Homo sapiens: one gene and its partner. Changing the gene in region 1 together with any one later gene gives a genetic interaction. Each region holds a gene or a part of one and is shown in the gene's direction. Other genes may lie near its edges. The genes, in order: HBS1L and CIT.

What was found.
Region 2: changes in HBS1L (region 1) and CIT together harm fitness more than expected from each alone (negative genetic interaction), as found in Homo sapiens cells (one large-scale study listed by BioGRID).

What each region holds. Positions count from the first base shown.
Region 1 is NC_000006.12:134,995,778-134,999,599, reverse strand, and holds part of HBS1L (HBS1-like protein), read left to right. Parts: intron 1-1,943; coding exon 1,944-2,203; intron 2,204-2,657; coding exon 2,658-2,823; intron 2,824-3,822. UniProt on the Homo sapiens protein: GTPase component of the Pelota-HBS1L complex, a complex that recognizes stalled ribosomes and triggers the No-Go Decay (NGD) pathway.
Region 2 is NC_000012.12:119,870,797-119,874,618, reverse strand, and holds part of CIT (citron Rho-interacting kinase), read left to right. Parts: intron 1-3,822. UniProt on the Homo sapiens protein: Plays a role in cytokinesis. Required for KIF14 localization to the central spindle and midbody. Putative RHO/RAC effector that binds to the GTP-bound forms of RHO and RAC1. It probably binds p21 with a tighter specificity in vivo.

The sequences.
Region 1 (3,822 bases):
GGCCAGCGCCTGTAATCCCAGCTACTCAGTAGGCTGAGGCAGGAGAATTGCTGGAACCTGGGAGGCGGAGGTTGCAGTGAGCTGAGATCGCACCATTGCACTCCAGCCTGGGTGATAGAGGGAGACTCCATCTCAAAAAAAAAAAAAAAAAGAAAAGAAAAAGATTTACTTAAATGAAAATGCTATCCTGAAAGCCAGAGGAAAACAAACCTTTCATGTTATTGAATTGCAGATGAAATGATCAAGTCAGCCCTGTTTTGTGAAGCCCTTCCTATTCTGGCAGCCCCTCTGAGGGCTGCCTGGATTGGTGGGGGAGCTGAGCTTCAAGCCCCTGCCCACTCTGTCCACCATAGCTGTCTGCTTTGATCTGTTTTCCATATTGAATTTAATGCAAGCTTGCCTCTGAAGAAAATGTTTTGCAGCTAAAAACAAAAAGATCTGGGGCCCGAGATTGTGATTTCTGCCAGGTCTGATTCAGACCAGAGCCTATGTCTAGTCACAGTAGATCACTTGTATTATAATTTGTGGGGCTTTAAAAATTCTTCTAAGTATAGAATTGTCAAGTTTTGGTTTTAGAACTAGCTGTGGTCATTCAAACAAATATTTGCAAATTATAGTCTGTTTGATTTCACTTAATTTAGCCTGTTAGAATCCTTTAAAAGTATGGGAACATTTCCTGCATATTACTGTTTTTACCTACTAGTTTAAGATGAAGTGCATCTGTCTAAGCAGTGCTCAAAAATGAACACCTAAATTGGTTAGTGGAGATTTGAAAAAGCAAAATAAAATGAGAATGGATATGTGGCTTTAAATAAAGTTGCAAATATAACTATTGTGACTCTTTTCCTGAGGCGTATTGTGAAGGGCTAATGTTGGGCATATAAAAATGCCCTGACAGGGAAAAACCAATGTATTTTTTGTTATAATAGGCAAGAAGAAAATAGATGTGCTTACACATATCCATCATGCTACAATCTTAAATGATTATTATAAATTGCTTTCTATATGTAGTTTTTCTTTGCCAGCTCCACATAGAGTTGGATATAATTGGTTTCATTCTTAATAACTTCCAATTTAACCTGCTCTTTGTCCTAATTCTGTTTATCCATAGTTGTTAAAGCAAAGTGAGGCATATCATAGTCTGATTATTAGGTCACATTCCTTATAGCTATTCAGAGTTGCACTGGTACTAGTTTCTATGTGGAGTGTCAACGAGCTCATGAAGAACTAAGATCAGTGTTTACTTTTGTTAAGGAAAGAATAAGTTAAGCTGGGCAGTCTTGTTTCTCCTTTATATATCTGAGTTCCTCACTAGATTGTAATCTTTTAAGAGTGGTAGTTAACTTTTTAATTTCTATGTCATTTTCTTTTTGACATCAGTCCCTAGTATATGTTGTAGTTTTTAATAAATCAAGTGTTTGTTGAATTAATGAATTAAAGCTCCACTGTCAAAAATGTTTATGAACTGTAGTCATTTAGAGATATCTCCCCTCGGGGTAGTATTTGAGTAAAAAAGATCATAAGTCTATCATGTTGGAAGGATGAGTTGAAGTAAAACTATATTTTAGTACTAATTCATCTCCAGTAATATATTTGGTGCCAATTTTACAAAATATCTCCTTCATACCATTGATTTTGATAGGATGGATTATATGGCCAAGACTGTGGGCTTGATTTTGAATTTCAGTTATTTTTCAACATTATTTTCTTCTTATCTTCATTTTTGGTACAGTTTTTCTCATGGGATCTTCCACGGTTGTATTTGTGTGGTTTGAGTCTAGCTACTTATCATTTCCACCTTAACAGACTTTAGCTACTTAGCAGAGATTATTTCTGGTCTGGAGCATAAAGGATTATGAAGAAACAGTTTCTCTGCCCTTCTGTCATTGTAGGACATCAATAGAGTTGGTTTCAAATACTTTTTTCCTATCTGCCTTCTGTAGAGTATCTTCTGAAGAAAATGGTCATAGTTTCCACACACCTCAAAAAGGACCGCCCATTGAAGATGCCATTGCTTCTTCCGATGTTCTTGAGACTGCTTCTAAATCTGCTAATCCACCCCACACGATTCAAGCATCAGAAGAGCAGAGTTCAACCCCAGCACCGGTGAAAAAGTCTGGCAAGCTGAGGCAGCAAATAGATGTGAAGGCGGAACTGGAGAAGCGGCAAGGAGGGAAGCAGCTACTCAACTTAGTGGTCATTGGTAATGCTCTTTGTCCCTCTGGATCGTCAGCCAGCCATGCCTTAGCCTGCCCACTGTCTGGAGGCAGCATGGAAACTCTGAGTTTCTCCATGGGTGGAATGGACAGAGAGCAAGGAGGCACAGTCTCATAATGCTTTCTAGTCATGTGGGGAGAGATAATGCCAAGTTACCAAAGAGGTCATTACACTTGATTGTGGGATTTTTCATTTTGTGAACATTTTGAAATTGGCGTGTCTTGTTGACAATTTTAATTTCCAAAAATCTGAGAAATTCCCCCCGTCTGTAAAGAGATATGCTCTTTTTTTTTTCTATTAGATGTTTTAACTGTCATTTGATAAATACTGGTATTACTGTAAACCACTGACATGAAATATTGAATTACACATTTATGCAATGCCTCAATGTGAACATCTGGAAATGTACCTGGTATTAATCCTGAATCAATTTTCTTTAGGTCATGTTGATGCTGGGAAAAGTACTCTGATGGGCCATATGCTTTATCTTCTGGGTAATATAAACAAAAGAACTATGCATAAGTATGAACAGGAGTCTAAAAAGGCTGGCAAAGCTTCGTTTGCATATGCATGGGTCTTGGATGAAACTGGCGAAGAAAGGGAAAGGTAGTCACTATATTTCAAAATTTTCAGTTTGAAATCATACAGTCTTCTAAAATAAGTGTGTAATATGTGTTGAATTTGTAAAACATATGAAATACTTTAGAGATTATTTTTAGAAAATAGCTTTTAGATATCAGGGAACTATTTTGACTTTTTTGATGTAATCTGCATACTGTTTTTACTCTTCTGAATTTTATAGAAATAGATTAAAAGAATGTTTAAAAGAAACAAAATAAAAGCCATGCAGAAAAACAACAGTAAAAATCATAAGCTGATTATTCTATGGGATAAGTTTCAGTTGTCACTTCCCTAAGTATTTGTCAAATTGTCTTGATTTTGAATTAAAATTATGAGTAAGACTTTTAATTTCATGTCAGCTTACAAAGGAAAGGTAACTGTCATAAAACCTCTTCTGTGTAGAATCTAAATAACCAGCAAATTCAAATTACCAAACAATTCATTTTTATACTTTACATATTATGTTTTTATGAGACAGTCTGCAAACAAGTAATTCTGTAGCTATAATGCAGTCAGTTACTCCTCTGTCTCTGTTACTGTCTGGCCAAAGAATAGTATTTCTTTTGAAGTCCTTTTAGAGTGTCAGTATAGATCATGTTAGGGTAGCTAGGGTAGGAGAGCCAAAGGACACCTTAATAATTAGTGAAATGGCAGATATATCAACTGTGTCAAAATAATGACTCTTTACAAACCTATAAAGTCCTGTGGAAGTCCTAGATTAACGAGATTAAACTGTGTTCCCTGATGTCTTCAATCTGATTATTGGAGAATATATCTGGATTTTCATGCCTTTTTAATGTGTATTTTCTTGCAGTCTTGGATAGTCTCCATTATAAACATATAAGGTAACGCTCTGTAAAGCAGGTCACAGTATTCCTTAGCTCTTCTGATAAACCAGAATTTGTATCATAATGGTTTCTCTTTCTTTGTGGGTGTCTTTAGTTCTTTATAGTATCACAGACCTGTTTTCTATCCTAGTAAGAA
Region 2 (3,822 bases), on another chromosome or scaffold:
TACACATTTCTGTCACCCCAGATGCGTTAAAACTTAATATCATAAGATTACTTCCAAATAGATTTTTAATTCTTTTGTTTCTGATGTATGTGGAACACTGGTGAAGTAGAAATCCTTGTTTGATTTATGTATTCGTAAGTCAGGGGGACAATAGAGACCATGAAGATTTAGAATTGAATCCCAGTCCCAGCACTAGTTAGCTGCATTACTTTGGGTGAGTCAGTTACCTTTTCTGAGTCCATTTGCTATTCTTTAAAATAGGTTGTAGCCTGTAATGCCAGTATTTTCGGAGGCTGAGGCGGGCGGATTACTTGAGGTCACGGGTTCGAGACCAGCCTGGACAACGTGGTGAAACCCTGTCTCTACTAAAAATATAGAAAATTAGCTGGGCATGGTGGTCGCATGTACCTGTAATCCCAGCTACTTGAAAAGCTGAAGCAGGAGAATCATTTGAACCCGGGAGGCGGAGGTTGTCGTGAGCCGAGATGGTGCACTGCACTCCAGCCTGGGCGACAGAGTGGGTAAGACTCCATCTCAAAACAAAACAAAACAAAAGAAAACAAAAAAAATAACATAGAGGTTGTAGTACCTAATCCACAGGGTTGTTGTGAGGATTAGATGAGATATTCGATTTAAAGCACTTAGCACCTTGCCTGGCTCTTAGTAAACTCCTTATAAAAAATGGTAATTATTGTTAATACTCAGCATAGAATAGTATTAGTTATAATATTAATACTAAATTTGTTTCCTTAATAGTAATTATATTTGGGAAGGTAGTTATGTAGGATACCTGTAAGATGATGAATGATGAAGTATTCTTGATAACTTTTTTTTTTTTCCAAAATATTGGTATTGGGTGTTTAAACAGATGAGAGTGGAAACAAATTGAAAGCTTAGGTTTTTCTGTGGGACCATCCCCATCAGCATTTTAAGTCTTGACATATCTTTCACAAATGAATAGTCTGTCTTTAACCTTAGATGGCTGGAGTGCTGCCACGTTTCAGCCCCTTTATCATGCTACTTTAAAATATCTCCAACTTGCTGGGCGTGGTGGCTCACGCCTGTAATCCTAGCAATTTGGGAGGCTGAGGTGGGTGGATTGCTTGAGGTCAGGAGTTCGAGAGCAGCCCGGGCAACATGGTGAGCCCCTCCGTTTCTACTAAAAACACAAAAAATAGCTGACTGTGATGGTGTGTGCCTGTAGTCCCAGCTACTCGGGAGGCTGAGGCAGGAGGATCACTTGAGCCCTAGAGGCAGAGGTTGCAGTGAGCTAAGATTGTGCCACTGCACTTCAGCACTTCAGCCTAGGCGACAGAGCAAGACCCTGTAAATTAAAAAAAAAAAAAAAAAGAAAAGGAAAAAAATTTCCAACTTATTAAGGGCTTATAGTGTGCTGATTATGTAATAGTTATGGCTTCCAATGTGTCTGGCATAGAACTGGCATGTTTCTGAGTATCTCACTTCAGCCTCATGACAGAGGTAAGGACTATTTTTAATTTAAACTTTAAATAGGAGGCAACAGGCCAGGTGTGGTGGCTCACACCTGTAATCCCAGTACTTTGGGAGGCTGAGGCAGGTGGATTGCTTGAGTCCAAGAGTTCAAGACTAGCCTGGGCAAAATGGTGAAACCCCATCTCTACAAAAAATATAAATAATTAGTCAGGCATGGCGGTGTGTGCCTGTAGTCCCAGCTACTCAGGAGGCTGAGGTGGGGGCATCTCTGGGGCCCCGGAGGCAGAGGTTGTAGTGAGTTGAGATTGCAACACTGCACTCCAGCCTGGGCAACAGAACGAGACCCTGTTTCTAAATAAATACATAAATAGGAGGCAACAGATATAGACAGATATGGAGGTAGGTAAGGCCTTGCCCAAGATCATACACGTTGGGTTTTGCAGATGAGGCCAAGATCAGACTCCATCTTTGGTTGGTCTGACTCCAAAGGCTGACCACATAGCCATTGGGCCACAGCACCTGTGCACGTCAGAATTTATTAAGTATATCTTGTATTTAGTCATTATAACAGGAAGACTTATGGGTAAACCCTCAGTTCATCTCTTTTTAATGCTGAGATCCCCCTGCCCAGTAAAGCTATTATTGCAAGTATAGTATATACCTATCATTTGCCTTGAGTTATCAGGTAAGGATGCTGTTTGTTCTTTTCCCATATAGTGCTGTTTGAATGAGGTTGAGATACAGTAGCAATTTTGTTTTCCATTCAGGTGAGTACCTTAGACTGAGTGTCATTTTGTCTTTTTTACTTCTACTCAACAGGATTTCCTGACATGTTCGAGGTCAGTGATTGTCAGACTTTCTGAGCCAGCAAAATTTCCCAAATTGCTGGGTAGACACAGGTTTTCCAACTTTTTATTTTGCCAAGTAAGGATATATAAAAAAAAAATAAAAAGAAAGACCTATTATTTTCTGGCCCTTGTATTTCATAAAGGGCATTTTAAGAAACAACAAGACAGGAAGAACATCATCTCAGAATAAAGGACCATTTTTAAATTTGAATACATTTAGTTTTATAAAAAAGATATCATGTGGTGTTCATTTTTTCTCATTTCACTGCAGGCTGTTGAAAACTTTGTTAAGAACCAGTACTATATTTGGGAACCCCTGCTTTAATTGATCTAAACTCTTGAAGAATAGAAGAAACAAAGCATTTTATTTTTCTGAGTTACTGGCAACTATTACTAAAGTGACAGATATGGTGGCCTTGAATGCAGTGCTTCCCAAACCTGATTGAGGTCTGACTCTCTTGGGGACCAGGGTCTCATTCTGTTGCCCAGGCTGGAGTGTGGCAGCACAATCTTGGCTCACTGCAGCCTTTACTTCTTGGGCTCAAGTGATCCTTCTACCTCAGTCTCACAAGTGGCTAGGACTACAGGACCATGGCACTACACCTGGCTAATTTTTTTTTGTTTGTTTGTAGAGATGGGATCTCGCTGTGTTGCCCTGGCTGGTCTTGAACTCCTGGGCTCAAGTGATCCTCCCACCTTGGCCTCCCAAAGTGCTAGTATTCCAGGTGTGAGCCACCTCTCCCTGCTGGGGAACTTGTTAATAAAACAGATTCTAGGCTACAGTCTGGAAAATTCTAATTCATTTGGTTGTGGGGGAGGGGGGCATAGGACCAGAGAATGTGTTTGTTTGTTTGTTTGTTTTTCTTAAATTCTCCAGTGCTGTTGTGATTCAAATGCAGCCGGTCTGTTTCTGTTATCAAGTGCTGTGTAACAAAGCACTCACAAAGTTTAAAGCAACAATGATTTATTTTTTCTTAGGATTCTGTGGGTTGGCTGGACTCAGCTAGGTAGTTCTGCTTCATCCTGTGATGTCAGCTGGGGTCACTTGTGGGGCTACATTCAGCTGGGATTATGTCTGGGACTGGAACATGTGGGTGCTGACTGCTGGCTGGGGCACCTTAGTGTTTCTCACATGGCCTCTCTTCTCCATGAGGTCTTTCAGTAGTATAGCCCAGGACTCGTAACTTTTTTTTTTTTTTTAAGACAGACTGTCGCCCTGTCGCCCAGGCTGGAGTGCAGTGGCACGATCTCTGCTCACTGCAACCTCCGCCTCCTGGGTTCAAGCAATTCTCCTGCCCCAGCCTCCCGAGTAGCTGGGATTACAGGCACGTGCCTCCACGCCCGGCTAATGTTTGCATTTTTAGTAGAGATGGGGTTTCACCACGTTGGTCAGGCTGGTCTCGAACTTCTGACCTCGCGATCCGCCTGCCTCGGCCTCCCAAAGTGTTGGAATTACAGGTGTGAGCCACTGCACCTGGCTGACTCGTAACTTTTTTTGTAAGTAATAAATATTTTAGGCTTT